2 separate regions of the Homo sapiens genome follow, and region 1 is linked to region 2. A link means that fine-mapping ties the variant in region 2 to the expression of a gene that starts in the linked region. Tissue or cell type: whole blood. Region 2 holds a variant in brackets; the other region holds the start of a gene. All regions are shown on one strand. Distances are from middle to middle.

What was found. PIP is the estimated chance that this variant, and not a neighbour inherited with it, causes the effect.
Region 1: it holds the start of ZNF226, and the variant in region 2 is fine-mapped to the expression of ZNF226 in whole blood (INTERVAL, PIP 0.93).

Annotation. Positions count from the first base shown.
Region 1 is chr19:44,160,352-44,168,467 of GRCh38, reverse strand. It overlaps ZNF226 (zinc finger protein 226), which reads right to left and starts at 3,368. Exons shown (of 6, transcript NM_001032373.2): 1 at 3,326-3,368; 2 at 2,661-2,711. RefSeq lists enhancers at 3,347-3,466, 3,527-3,676.
Region 2 is chr19:44,206,551-44,214,666 of GRCh38, reverse strand. ZNF227 (zinc finger protein 227) reads right to left here and starts at 2,135. Exons shown (of 6, transcript NM_182490.3): 1 at 2,082-2,135; 2 at 1,423-1,577. RefSeq lists enhancers at 6,839-6,888, 6,899-6,998. The variant C/A (reference allele first, on the strand shown) is at 3,922.

The DNA of each region.
Region 1 (8,116 bases), 46 kb after region 2:
ACTGGAAACTCATCTGGGGGAAGAAATTACTTTCAAAGTCTTTAATGGGAAAATGGAGTAAGTTTAAATACAAACTGTGGGTTAGATAACAGTAAGTTATCAATGTAACTAATTTCATTTTCATCACTATCTCTAGCTTGCTCTCAAATACTTCAGCAAAAAGACAAAAACAAAATATAAGTATGACAAAGTTGTGAAAGCAAAAAGACAAAAAAAAAAACAAAACAAAAAACTACTTTGACAACAGCAGCAACAACCAGAACCTGGTGTTTCCAATTTATCAACAAGAATGAGACAGGTCTACTCAGTGATCATGGTGAAAAAGAAAAAAACAAAACAGCTTGTAACACAGAGAGAAATACATCCTACATTGATAAAAATAGCCAAATAATTGCCTCTTCCATCTAACATGACCACTTTGTTATCAGTGACAACTCCAGTCTTGTTATTTCCCCACCTCCAACATAAAAATTACAATAGTCTGATCAAATTACTACTGCTTCTTCACAGCATCCAATCCAGAACAAACCCATTGCCTAAAACTCTCCCCAACTCATCTAACATAAACCAAAACCCTATAACCAGGGTCCTCCTAATTGCCTCTTACCAAGACACCCCATGCATGTGTGGGCTCCTTGGATGCAGCAAGCTAAAACAAACAATTGTTGTTGGTTACAGGTATGTTCCTGGTGATGGCTGATGGTCATCAACAGAGCACACAGGGAAAACATAACATAACAAACAAACGTAACAACTGGTGAATCTGGGTGTAGAGTATATGAGATTTCCTTACGTTATCATTTTTGCAGCTTTTCTACAAGTTTGAAATTATATTTTTAAAAAAAGTTGGCTGGGCACGGTGGCTCATGCCCATAATCCCAACACTTTGGGAGGCCGAGGTGGGTGGATCACCTGAGGTCAGGAGTTCGAGACCAGCCTGGCAAACATGGTGGAACCCCATCGCTACTAAAAATACAAAAAAATTAGCCGGTGTGGTGGCGGGTGCCTGTAATCTCAGATGTTTGGGAGGTTGAGGCAGGAGAATCTTTTGAACCTGGGAGGCGGAGGTTGCAGTGAGCCGAGATCACGCCATTGCACTCCAGCCTGGGCAACAAAAGTGAAACTCTGCCTCAAAAAAAAAAAAAAAAAAAAAGTTAAAGAAATTAGGAAAGTCATTAATCAGAATAATAACGATGACGAGATGATGACAACTATGGCAATAATATCTAACGTTAATTAACAATAAATAGGTAGCTGATCTTCCCACTTCAGGCAGAAGGCCTCCAGTACAAAAGATGGGAAGGAATCTACTCCCCAAAGCCTGGGAGAAATAGATCTTCAGGACTCTGAGTTTCTCCATTTTGACTCTAGACTTGACAGCTGCCTTCTACTCATGTCATGGTTTTTGCAAAGAAACTTGACAGTTAATATTTAGTGGGAAAGAAAAATCACTGGACTGAGTAGGGTTCTAGTATGGCCAGCTCAGTTTTATCTGTGACATCTGGCAGGGTCAGTTTTCTAGTCCTGAGTTTCCAGATAAGACCTTTTCCTGAGCTTCTCAAACTTTAACATGCATCTCGCTCACCTTGGGATCTTGTTGAAATGCAGATTTCTGGGTCCTATCTGCAAAAATGCTAAATCAGAAGGCCTTCGGTAGGGCTCAAGAATGAGCCTTTCTACCTGGGTGATGCCAATGTTGCTGCTTTGTGAACCACAGTTTGAGTAGTGTTGCACTGTACTCAGTCCCTCTCCCAAAACAGCCCCTAATAAACAGAAATATATACAAGAAAAACTTGACAGAAAGGCACTAAACTATAGTTGTTATCTTTATACCCTAAGGTCATGGGGAATTTACATTTTTTAAATGTATTTCTGTGTTTTCCATGATTATGTGTTACCTCTATATTATTTGAAACAAATAAAACTAATAATTGAGAAAACTATTTTTAAAAACTCTTTTCTTTTTTTGAGACAGAGTCTTGCTCAGTTGCCGAGGCTGGAGTGCACCGGTGTGATCTCAGCTTACTGCAGCCTCGCCTCCTGGGTTCAAGCGATTCTCCTGCCCCAGCTTCCCAAACTCCTGGGATTACAGGTGTTGGCCACCACGCCTGGCTAATTTTTGTATTTTTAGTAGAGATGGGGTTTCGCCATGTTGGCCAGACTGGTCTCAAACTCCTGGCCTCAAGTGATCTGCCCGCCTCAGACTCCCAAAGTGCTGGGATTACAGGCGTCAGCCACTGTGCCCAGCCACTATTTTTTAAAAGTCATAGAATAGCCCAGACCTTGAGCAAAGTCCCCACAGTGAAGTCCCAACCTATTTTCACATGATACTAGCCAGCTGCCTATGGCTCATGCAGAACATACCAAAGAAGACTCAGGTCTAGACTCAGACTGCCTCGGTTTCAATGCTAGCTCTGCCTCCTACTAGCTAGGTGGCTATGAGCAAACAAGTTATGTTCTTATGTCTCAGTCTCCTCGGAAAAAGAGTATCACTTCACAGAGCCACTGTATAGTGGAAAGGTGTTCATTTGTATAAACCCCTTAGAATGGAACTTAGCAACTAACGCTAAATTATAATCACTTCTCATGCCCAAATACATGACCCCACACATTCTCTGATTTATGTGAATAAAACAAGAATAACAACAAGTCTTACTCACATGGGGTTCTGCTGCCTCCTCCTCTGTGCAGTGCTTTTTGAGAAGTCAGGGCTGGGGAAGAAAAACAGGCTATGAAGTAACCAGGATTGTGTCTTCATCCCGGATACATCACAGTGGCATCTCCCAGGACCAGTTAGAAGCAACCCTCTCCTTCCTCAAAAGAGGTCAGGGACAATCCAGCTTCATGGACTCACAGAATTTCGCCACAGAACGGGAGTTTCTAGGAAAATTACAGTAGTATTGGTAATTCACGTGCCAGGCAGTTTTACACTTTTTGTATTACCTCGTTTTCTCTCAAAACATTCTATTAGGAAGTTTTTGCTTTTATTTTCCTTCAGAACAGCAAACGAAGGCACGGGGATTAACTAACTCGCTCAATGTGATACTGTATGAAGTGGTAGGGCTGGCTCATTAGGTGGGGGAGTCACAATGAGGGAGCGAACAGCCCGAGAGACCTTCAAACCCGACGAAGCATCACCCCAGCCGCCCGAAGCCAGTACGCCCCCAATTCTAACAAGCTCCGCCCAGGGAAACGCAAAACAGCATCCTGGCCCCTCAAACCTCCGCTCTTAGCCGCTACTCCTTTTTTTCCCCAAACAAAAGACCGCTAGCTGCTGACCACAAGTGCATTTCGGGGAAGTTTGAAAGGTTCCTGAGAAGCTGACCTGAATCACCAAAGCCAGGGAAAAGATGGCTGCTACGTCGTCTTCCTGGGCGGAAGTGCCTGCGAGTATCAGGAGGACCTGGACTACGCTTCCCAGAATTCCACAGCACTGCCTTCCTCGAGCCGGAAGTGCCTACAACTACCTAGAACGATTGGACCTACAGTTCCCAGGATTCCGCAGGGGAAACATTTACAGCCTTACTGCAGCTGAGCTATGCGCGACTACACGGAACTCCGGACTACATATCACAGAATGCTGGAGTTGGGGGAAAAACAGAACAGTACCGCCCTCCTGGACTACACTTCCGGAATGTCCAAGCCTTCTGATGTGGAAGTGTCCAACTACCTTGAGCTCCTGGTTTTCATTTCCCAGAATCCCTCACTTCTCTTTAGGTATTATTATGGTCTGAGTGTTTATGGCCCCCACCAAATTCGTATGTTTAAATCCTAACTCCCAAGAAGATATTAGGAGGTGGAACCTATGGGACGTGATCAGATCAAGAGGGCAATGCCCTCATGAATAGGATTAATGCTCTCTTATAAGTGGCCTGAGGGAGCTCCTTTGCCTCTTTAGTTATGTGAGGACACAGCCAGAAGGACCATGTATGACTTAGAAAGCGGGACCTCACCAGACACTGAATCTGCTGGCACCCGATCTGGGGCTTATGTGCCAGCAATTTCACTCCTAAGTAAATACCCAGGAGAACTGAAAGATATCCACACAAAAACTTGTTCTAAAAAAGTTCATAGCAGCATTAGTCATAATAGTCAAAAAGTGGAGAAGACCCAATGTCCATCAGCTGATGAGTGGATAAACAAAATGTGGTCTAGCCATATAATGCAATATTATTTAGTAATGTGAATGAACAAAATATTGATTCATGTTATAACATAGATGAACTCTGAAGACATTATGTCCAATGAAAGAAGCCAGACACAAGATACCATATATGGTATGATTCCATTTATATCAAATGTGCAGAATAGGCAAGTCCATAGAGACAGAAAGTAAATTAGTTGTCTCCAAGGCTGGGGAGATGTAGTTGGGAATGGGGAGTGACTGTCAATATGTAGGGTTTTTTTTTTCTTACTTTTTTAGAGACAGCGTCTTGTTATGTTTCCCAGAATGGAGTACAGTGGCTATTCACAGGCATGATCATAGCACACTGCAGCCTTAAATTCTTGGGCTCAAGTGATCCTCCCGCCTCAGCCCCCTGGGTAGTTGAGACTACAGGCATGCACCACCACACCCAGCTCATGTAGGGGATTTCTTTTGGGAGCAGATGAAAGAGTTCTAGGATTAGATAGTGGTAATCATTACATAATATTGTGGATCTTTTCAAAGATAGAAAAATGTTATGTGACAATATCCCCTAAAGCGTTAAAATGTAGCTAAACTCAAAGCTAAGACAGGGAAATCCCAACGGCCAAAGATGAACAGGCAAGTTAGGCCCACAGATGAAAAAACTGAATGATCCCACAAGGGCTGGGCATACTAGGTAAGAGCTAAGGAATTAATCTTGTGTGTGAATGGGAGTTAGAGTAGCCATGCATTTTGGGAGACATGAACTATACAATATTACAAATGAAACAGTTCTCTCCTCTTGACTGTGAACAAACAACAACCAACCAAAAACAAAGCCAGATAGCTCCCAGCTTCTACAGCTGTCTTGTGACTAACCTGAAAACTCTGGTCATGAGGAGGGTAGATGTAGACTGTACCTACAGTCTTATCAGTTATGGGGCAGAGGGGCAAGAAATTATTTGGTTTAGTCTACTGGTTTTGGTTACAAATTACCTTGAAGGAAGATGACCTAATGTGGTATCTGGTGATACAAAGAAAGAAAAAGAAAGAAAAGAATATAGGTACTGGATTTCTGAAGCCCTTTGTTCAGAAAAGAGTTAACATAGGCCTGAGACTGTTGTACTTAAAAGGCCTGCTTGCAACATGCTATAGTTTGATGGTGTTCCCTTGTTAAAACTTAATCCCTTCTTGCTTTTTCATCACTTCCACCATATGAGGACATAGCATCTGTCTCCTCCAGAGGATGCAGCAACTGGATGCCATATTGGAAGCAGACAGCAGCAGCCCTCACCAGATGTTAAACCTGCCAGCATCTTGACCTTGGACTTCCCAGCCTCAAGCACTATGACAGATAAATTTATATTGTTTATAAATTACCTAATCTGTGGTATTCTGTTATAGCAGCGCAAGATATAAGGTTAGCCCTTGACTGGTATCTGGGAACTTGAATTTCAGGAGGATTTCCACAATTCTCTGATGAGAGTGGCTCACCATGCCCCGGCTATTTGTATAATGTGATTTATGCTGAATTCCTTCTGGGAATCTAGAATTTTGGCCCAAGCTGGCCTATGTGACCAGTTCCAAAACAAAACACAACGTAGTGCCTAGGGCACTAAGTCTCCATTGAGCTTACTGGGTAGACATTTCACATGTTTCAATGCTGAAAAAACAGTACATCATGAATGATTCTACAGGGAGTGGATTATTGGAAGCCTGTACCTGATTTCTTCTGGACTTCATCCCATGCACATTTTCCCTTTGCTCAACTGACTTGGTATCTTTTACTACAATAAATCATAGTGACTATGATAACATAGGGTGTCTTGAGTCCTCCTAGTGAATTACAAGAATGTGAAGGTGGTATTATCAATCCCCAGCATACCATGCACATTGAGGTAGCATGGACCTTAATGAGTAGCAAGCATCCAGTGAAGGTATACTGAAGAAAATCAATAGTGGAAAAAAGTCTCCCCAGTTAGATATAATTTATTGAGTAAAGCCCTTTAATCCAGCAGTTCACAACCTTTTTGGCACAGGGGACCAGCTTTGCAGAAGACAATATTTTTCCACAAGGTGAGGTGGGGGGATGGGGATGGTTTGGGGATGATTCAAGCACATTACATTTATCATTTTATTTTCACAAGGAGCGAGCAACTTAGATCCTTTCTTTAAAAAAAAAAAAAGAGTTTCGCTCTTGTTGCCCAGGCTGGAGTGCAATGGCGCAACCTCGGCTCACTGCAACTTCTATCTCCTGCGTTCAAGTGATTCTCCTGCCTCAGTCTCCCAAGTAGCTGGGATTACAGGCACCTGCCACCATGCCTGGCTAATTTTTGTATTTTTAGTACAGATGGGGTTTCACTATATTGGCCAGGCTGGTTTCCAACTCGTGACCTCAGGTGATCCGCCCACCTCAGCCTCCCAAAGTGCTGAGATTAAAGGCATGAGCCACTGCGCCTGGCTGCAACCTAGATCCTTCACATGCGTAGTTCACAATAGGGTTCATGCCACTGATCTGACAGAAGGCAGAACTCAGCTTTGCTCACTTGCCCACTGCTCACCTCTTGCTGTCTGGCCCTGTTCCTAACAGGGTCTGTGGCCTAGGGGTTAGGGACCCATGCTTTAATCAACTACACTGAAAATATCACCATCATGTCCAAGGAATATGGAATGTCATTCAAACCCACTCTTTGTCCTTACTGGTTCCACATCCAGTAAGTGGATTGCACTATATTCTGCTCTTATGCACACTTTTTCCTCAGTGAACCTTTTTAAACATACCTCCCTAACATATGTATACCACTTTGTTTTCATTTCCAGGATTCTCTCTGTGTTACAGATTAATGCTTTAAAAAATGTAGCAAGCAAGGCCGGGCACAGTGGATCATGCCTGTAATCCCAGCACTTTGAGAGGCCGAGGCGGGCAGATCACTTGAGGTCAGGAGCTCGAGACCAGCCTGGCCAACATGGTGAAACCTCGTCTGTACTAAAAATACAAAATTTAGGCCAGGCACGGTGGTTCACACCTGTAATCCCAGCACTTTGGGAGGCCGAGGGCGGATCACAAGGTCAAGAGATCGAGACCATCCTGGCCAACATGGTGAAACCCCGTCTCTACTGAAAATACAAAAATTAGCTGGGCGTGGTGGTGCACACCTGTAGTCCCAGCTACTCAGCAGGCTGAGGCAGGAGAATTGCTTGAACTTGGGAGGCAGAGGTTGCAGTGAGCTGAGATTGCGCCACTGCACTCCAGCCTGGCAACAGAGTGAGATTCCGTCTCGGGGAAAAAAAAAAAAAAAAAACTGAGTTGGACATAGTGGCACGCCCCTGTAATCCCAGCTACTCAGGAGGCTGAGGCAGGATAATCATTTGAATTCGCGAGGCGGAGGTTGCAGTGATTCAAGATTGCACCACTGCACTCCAGCCTGGGCAACAGAGAAAGACTCCATCTCAAAAAAAAAAAAGAAGTGTAGCAGACATTAATTGCAAAGATACAATTGTTCACACTCATCCATTTATCCACATATTCAGAGAATTTTTTTGTTTTTAAAATTGGCTTCCAGAATCTATTAATTATGATCTTATGTGCCATATAACAATATAGAACAATCATATTTTGAAGGGATTATCATATAGCACTTTTTAAAATTCTAATGTACATAATTTACTGCTTTGGTAATACTGATGTTCAATAAGAAATTAAAATGTAATTTATGGAATTATAAAATGGAAAAATACCACAAAATGCTCATTGCAAGAGAAAATTGCTAAAAAAAAAAAAGTATCCTTTACATATTATCTTATGCATGTACATACACACTCACTCATAAAAATGTATAGATTTCATTATGCTACAAAGGCAATAGTCTATGATCTTCCAAAGCCCATATTTTTTCTTTATCCTGTCATTACAGATACCTGCCGCCATTTTAATAGCTTCAGGTCAATACAGGAATGAAAATATCAAAAGTCAAATTATTATAGAGGAAC
Region 2 (8,116 bases):
GTGGCTCACGCCGGTAATCCCAGCACTTTGGGAGGCCGAGGTGGGCGGATTACCTGAGGTCAAGAGTTCAAGATTAGCCTGGGTAACACGGTGAAACCCCGTCTCTACTAAAAATACAAAAATTAGCTGGGAGTGATGGCGCACACCTGTAACCCAGTTACTCGGGAGCTTGATGCAGGAGAATCACTTGAACCTGGGAGGTGGAGGTTGCAGTGAGCTGAGATCACGCCACTGCACTCCAGCCTGGGCAACAAGAGTGAATCTCCATCTCACAAAAAAAAAGAAAAAAAAAGAAAAAAGAAAATTTTCATAATAAGAAAAAAACTACTACACAGAATACCAAACCTATTTTGAGAAACATCCATAGCATATACTAAAGGGAAACACATTAAAGTGTTAGCAGTTTTATTATAAGTAATTTAAGTTTTCTGAATATAACATCACTGTCCAATAGAAATATACTGAGACACATAAATAATTTTAAATTTTCTAGCAGTAACATATAAAAAAGGCAAAAAAACAAAAACAAAAATAGGTGAAGTTAATTTCAACAACATAATTTAAGCCAATGTATCCAAAATATTACCATTTTGACATATAATACAAAAAATTATCAATGAGCCATCTTACATTTTTTGTACAAAGTTTTTGAAATCCAGTGTGTATTTAACACTTACAGCACATCTCAATTTGGACTAGACACATTTCAAGTGCTCCTAGGGCACACATGGCTTATAGCTACTGGATTGGATAGTGCATCTCTATAATGAGCATTCATTACTTCTATAACTAGAATATGACATATTTTGACATGGAATGAAATTAAGTAAGTGAGATGTTGCAGGATTTTTCTAAAAAATTCAAAATTCATCAGTGCAGTTTTTGAGGTCTTCCACAGTAAAATCCATACCTACATTCCCAAGGCTGATTTCCAACGACTCACCGGTAGCCATATGGATTACTATTTAAGATAACTGAAGACGACTGTATCATTGAGATTAAGACCACAGACTCAGAAAAAGGAATAGAAAATAAACAACAACAAAAACCAAAGAAACAAAAACAAACAAAAAAGATCACACAGTCTGAAAAGGAATGCTTGGGTTCAATCCCAAATCCACCTCTTACTATCAGTTGAATAACTTCGGGAAAGTATTTAATAACATAAACTCTGCCTAATTTCCTCATAACAAAATAACAAGACCTACTTCATCAATAGCTATGGTCCACAGACGAATGCCTTAAAATCAAAGTGGTAAGATGTTATTGGTAATACTCATTTCCAAGTAGTTTTCCTACCCACTCTCACATTTATTCAACAAATATTTCATCATTTTTCAGTAGTAACTTACTGAGTGACGGAAACTTGATTAACTGAAAGGACAGAAAATGGAACAACAAAGTGCGTTCAAGAGCAGGTACCTGGGGCTATGCTGGGAGAAGCCAAGAAGTCCCTCCTTCCTCCTCTTTGCAAATTCGGAGGCGGTGAATAAAAGGATGCTGTCAGCACGATGGAGTCTCTATCCCGGATAAACGGCGGTAAACATCCCCACGCATTGGAGCCCGATGACTCAATCCTTCTTAAAAAAAAAAAAGATCTGTAAAAGTTCGGGAAGAGCTCGGTCTCCTGAAGGATACGACAGAAAGGCCATGGCATAAAGCCCTGACTTTTCTTCTCTCTTCACTGGAGCTTCCAGTAAAAAGGGCGCTTGTGAGGGAATCACTGTATCAATAGCAGGAGCCAACCCAGTATCAGGTGCCACCACTGTTCTAAGGTTTGACCCGTATTATCTTGTTTAATTCTAATTACAACCCTACACAGTAACGACTATCTTTATTGCTATTTTAAAGATGAGGAAACAGGAGCGCGGATCATAGGTAACTCGCTGTTTATTATACCCACAGAACTAGCGGCGCTGCTTGCCAAGTGCGGGAGGAGAGCAAACTTCCCGCCCTCGGCCTCTCGGCCTCCGCCGCGGCCGCGACCTCTCCATCCCAAGACTGATGGCTGGGGAGCGCCTATTCCCAAGCACAGGCTGAAAAGGTTCAAGAGGGGTCGTGGGGGTGCAGGGCTGACTCACCTCCCGGACCCAAAAGATGGTGGCGGCCTCGCTTTCCGGGGCGGAAGTGGCTCTGCCTGCCCAGAGCTCCTGAACTACCCTTCCCAGAAGGCCCGCGCTCCTGCGGCCCAATTGTTTCCGGACAGAGTTCTGGAATACGTTTCCCAGAACTTCCAGAAGGAAAAACCATCCAGGTGCCGCCCTCTTCGCGCTTGAAAAAAAAAAAAACAAAAAAAAAAACGGAGCGAGCGAGTGAGAGAGGGTTACGGAGAGTGTGACAAAATTCTCGGAGCTCCCGGACTACAACATCCAGAATCCTCTTCACGGCTTATTGCTGTTTAGCCAGGCTGAAGCAGTTCTCTGATGTCAGTGGAATTTAGGTTTTTCTTATTAACAAAAAGTAACAGCAAATATGTGAAGAATTGGAGCCCTAAAATAAAAAAAGACTCCCAGCACTTTGGGAGGCCGAGGCGGGCGGATCACGAGGTCAGGAGTTCCAGACCAGCTTGGCCAATATGATGAAGCCCCGTCTCTACTAAAAATATAAAAATTAGCCGGGCGTGGTGGCGCGCGCCTGTAGTCCCAGCTACTTGGGAGGCTGAGGCATAAGAATCGCTTGAACCCTGGAGGGTGCAGTGAGCCAAGATCGTGCCACTGCACTCCAGCCTGGGCGACAGAGTGAGACTCTGTCTCAAAAAAAAAAAAAAGAAAAAAAAAACTATTATAAGAAACAGATCACGTGATCCTGTACTAATAGAATTATACCCACCACTTCCAAAAAAAAAAAAAAAAAGGGCAGAGGAAACCCTTTAAGTTTTTACATTTAACAGGATCGACTAATAGAAAAACTACTCTTTAGATACTAAAAGAATGAAAGAGCAATCAAAAAATGCAACGAAGGCAGAATATATTATGGATTTCCACTTTTCTTAATAGCACAGTCATATAATTCAGAACAACTTGCTTACTGAGGATAGCTAGACATAGAAAACACAAGCTTTGGCATATGGTAGATCAACTCCACAAAGCAACTAGGGCCTCTGTAATCATTCCTCAAGGAGTTTCTGAATTTGAAAGATGAACAAATTTATTACTTCAGTGTTTAAACCTTGATCTTTATTTGCTTAAATGTATAATGGAATTGATGTTTCCAAGAATTGAGGGTTGAAAGAAGAGAGCAATACCTAAAAATATCCACATATCTACTACAGTACATGTTTGCAGTTCTCATTTACTAAATATATATTCTTTATTCTGTTATATACAACTATCTCTTATAAAGAACCAAGTATGTGCCAGGAACTAGTTCAAACTATTCAGACTATGGGACCCTCACTACATTTTCACAACTTTTTTCTTTTTTTTTTTGTTCTGTTTTGTTGTTGTTGTTGTTGTTGTTGTTGTTAGACAGAGTTTGGCTCTTTTGCCCAGGCTGGAGTGAAGTGGCATGACCTCGGCTCATTGCAACCTCCGCCCTCACACAAGGTTCAAGCAAGTCTCCTGCCTCAGCCTCCCAAGTCGCTGGGGTTATAGGCACCCCCCTCCCCACCACGCCCAGCTAATTTTTGTATTTTTAGTAGAGACGGGGTTTTGCCATCTTGGCCAGGCTAGTCTTGAATTCCTGACCTCAGGTGATCCACCCGCCCCGGCCTCCCAAAGTGCTAGGATTACAGGCATGAGCCACCACACTTAGCCCATTTTCACAACTTTTTTAAAACAAATAATGTCCTCTAGTTTACTCTTTGGGATCCAGAGGCAGAGAGAGGTTAAGTATATCTCCTAAGATGGAAATTTGATTATTTTCACCTGCATGTCTATCCAGTGCCCTTAAGAGAAGGTTCAAATGCTTTAACAAGTCGCA[C/A]AAACAGGAATTTTCCAGATGCTGTTTCTCTCTTGGAATCCACTTTCCACTCTACATGTCCAGCCATAGTGGATTACTTGTACTCCTACAAAAAGCCTCTAATTCTTTGTATTTGGTGTTCCTTCTGTCATAACCTGCTACTCTTTTCCCTCCTGGGTGACGGTCTTCATCCATAGCTTAAATATTCCCTGCTCTAATAAGACTTACTGTGGGTTCTTGCCTTGTAGACTAATAAAAGTAGTGTGTAGTAGCTAATATTACAGCCTTAGTATAAAGCTATCTAGATTAAAATACTAGTGCTTCCATTTCTTCTGTCCCCTTTTTCTTCATTTGTAAAATGGAGACTATAATAGGGTTGATATCAAGTACAAATGAATAAATACATGTAAAACACTGGAAATTCTGCCTGATTCATGACTACCCTATAAAAAGTTAGCAAATGTTAACCTCAGGGGATAAACACAGGACACATAAATTATGGATGGAAGGTTTCTACAAAAATTTGCTTTGATCACTAAAATATTATCAATAACCATGCATCAACTTTTGATTACTGGGAAAAAAACTAGAAGACTATGCAAATGCATCCCACCAAAAGTGAGATAAAGAGTCACTAATATTGACATTATTTCCTTTTATTTTTTCCTAAATCCATTTTGGGAATTCTGAATACAATCTAAATGATCTGCAGGTTTCCATTTCAAGATACTGGGCAGCTCCACAAACCACAAACACTAAACCCCTCCTTACCAGTCTTGTGCTGGGTGCTAAGCACATGGTAAAGAATGGGACATAGTTCCTGCAACAAAGTAACATGCAGCCTAAGGGAGAAACAGATCAGATCTAAAAGACCCTGAGTAGGCCGGACTCTGTGGCTCACGCCTGTAATCCCAGCACTTTGGGAGGCCGAGGTGGGCAGATCACGAGGTCAGGAAATCGAAACCATCCTGGCTAACACGGTGAAACCCCGTCTCTACTAAAAATACAAAAAATTAGCCGGGTGTGGTGATGGGCGCCTGTAGTCCCAGCTACTCAGGAGGCTGAGGCAGGAGAATGGCGTGAACCCGGGAGGTGGAGCTTGCAGTGAGCCGAGATCGCGCCACTGCACTCCAGCCTGGGCGACAGAGCGAGACTCCGTCTCAAAAATAAATAAATAAAAATGAATAAATAAATAAATAAATAAAAGACCCTGAGTAAAACATTCCAAATAAAGAAGCCAAATTCATAACTATTCCTTTCCAAATCTCAATGATTCCCTCTCCTTTAGGTTTTTCACATAACTACCTTCCTCCTAGTTGCCAGGAAAGAAAACCCTGAAGTTATTTGCTTTCCTTTGCTCTTCATTCATAATTACTTTATGTTAATTACTTTTAATTTCTACCGACTGACTAGGATTTGGTTTTGATTTTAAATAGTCAAATTCCTCCTCTTCCCACCAAAAACATATGTGGGAGAAGAGTAATAGATGCAATAAGATAGACAAAATGTTTACAAGAGTTAAAGACAAATGATGGCGGGGTGGGGGTCATTAACACTATTTTCTGTATGTGCATGTTTGGGAATTTCTACAAGAAAAATTAGAGAAATACCATGTGGGTGGTATGGCACCAATGCATAAATGCATTTAAAATGTTAGCAGTGGTTATCTCTAAATCCTGAGATTATGGGTTAAAGGAACGGGGTCTCGCTGTCATCCAAGCTGGAGTGCAGTGCCGTGGTCATAGCTCACTGCAGCTTCAAACTCCTGAGCTCAAGCGATCCTCCCACCTCAGCCTCCCAAGTAGCTGGGACTATCGGTATGTGCCACCACACCCAGCTAATTGTTTAAATATACAGCAGTGAATATGGGTAACTTTCATTTCCTTTTATACATTTCTGTATTTTCTAATCTCTCTATAATGGTCATGCATTATTTCTATAAGGAGAATATAGACTCTAAAGCCCCAGATCACCTTCCAAACCTGATAGAAAAAGACTTCCACAAACCATATACACGATTATTTCATATGGTTCTAAGAAAAATGTACAGCGTGGAGAATATGAACACAGACTTGAGGCTCCAACTTCTTGGGTTCATATGGACGTTCTGCCTCTTACTAACTGTACGTTTTAGGGTTCGTCTTCCCTCTTCTTTTTCTTAGAGCATTTCCATAAGAAACCTAGTGCTTCTGAATCCTTTCTCTAACCTTTTGATACGCATGTAAATTTCATTAGCGGCTATGTAAGCCTCTAGCCAGGTTTACAACCTAGAAGTATTTGTGAAAGTTCTGAGATTTGTCCCTTTTGAATATAAACATCTGAGAAAATAACAACCCACTGTCCCTATCACTGCAAGAGTTTAACCAAGGTGCCTCTCTTTAAACTGTAAATCGGCTAGCAGATGAGGTAAGAGAAGTTTTATTACTTTCGATAAAGTTAGTTAACTAACACTGGATTCTCAAGTAAATTTAGAATAAATTTATAAAAGAATTTGCAGTAAATGATGAGACCAAGTCCTCTTATTGAAAAATCATTAATCTTGAGAACTGATGTACATAGTGGTCAAAAGTAGAATTGTATAAAAAGTTTAAAACTGCTTGACTGTACACATAGGGCGGAATTTTTTAATAATATTTTTCTTTAGATTGCCTACAATACTATACAGTGGTTGTCCTTATTCAGTAATAAGACAGCTTTCTTTTCTACATTGTGTGGAGAGGTCTATTATCTTCGTCTCTCTGTTAGAACATAAGTGGTACCTACCACATAACGGTATTTTGGACATTTAATGAATAATTCGTATAAAAGTACAAGGACCTCCTACTAATGACTCTACTTCAGGAATGAGGAGAATGGGATAGAGAAAGATTAAGATTAACTCACAAAACGTTATAACACTAGTAAGTGGCAGAGCTGGCAAGTAGGTGGGAGAGGCTGGCTGCGGAACGCCAGGAGACCCTCTAACCAAGCGACAACCGATCCAGGACGCTCCCAACCCGGGGACGCAAGAACTGCTCCAAACGTGAGGCTCAGCCGAGAGGAAAGAACACAAACTGCTCCCAACTCCAGCCTCCCAGCTGGCCACAGCTTCTCTAGCCTTCCTCCAGACGAGGGCCAGGGCCCCGCTTGCTCCCTGACGAGGCTGAGAAAACTTGGAGGGTCCCAGCGGATCCAAACACTTGTTTTCGCCCTCCTAGAGCGAAAAAACTTCCCAGCAACTAAAGAGAAACCCCGGATCACTTCCCACAATTCCCTAGCTCCGCCATCCAAAAGCGGAAGTGCCCCAGGCTACGCGGGCCCCTGACTACACTTCCCAGAATGCCCCAGGGGAAACCGGCCATAGTTCCGCTCCTTGGAGCGGAAATACTTCCGAGTAACCTGAGCTTCCGGGTATCCTAGAAAGCCAGAGCAAATCTTAGCCAAGATTTGCAATTTTAGAGTGGAAGTGTCTGTCTTGGTGGTACCTACCGATTCTGTTGTTCAAGGGCCTTGGGGAAGAAGTTGGGGATCGGGAGAAGGGTACCTAGTAAAACCCAAAGAGCTGCACTACAGGAGTAAAGATAAAGGGCAAATAGATCATCTTCACTAGGGGACTGAAGCAAAACTTGAAATCACATTCGTACCTGAAAATAGATTAAAGTAAACCTTTTCTGTTAGTGTTTGCAGGTACCTGACATAAACAAAAATATTCTAATGGAGAAAGAGACTATCGTCCTAGGCCTCATATTCTTTCTCTAATTTTAAAATATATTAATATTGGACAAAGTACAATAGTCCTTGAAGAAAAGAACATTTTAAGATATACAAAGAAACACTTCATAGTAATGAAAATTTTCTATCAACTATAACAGCCTTACATAATGTAAAGCAAACTTTATAAAGAAAAATTGATTGACAGACTCATAAGGAGAAAAACACTGATAAACAGGAGAGCTTTTAATACATGATTAGAAGGAAACATAGAAAGCCTTGAAATCATATACAGGTCCTGGAGTTAACAATGGTTCACTTAAGATTTTTCGACTTCATGATGGTGTGAAAGCAACACACATTCAGTACAGTACCTATACAACCCTTCTGTTTTTCCCTTTCAATACCTATTCAATAAATTATATGATATTCAACACTTTATTATGAAATAAGCTTCTTTTTGCTAGATAACGTTGCCCTTGGATCACCTGAGGTCAGGAGTTTGAGACCACCCTGGAGAATATGG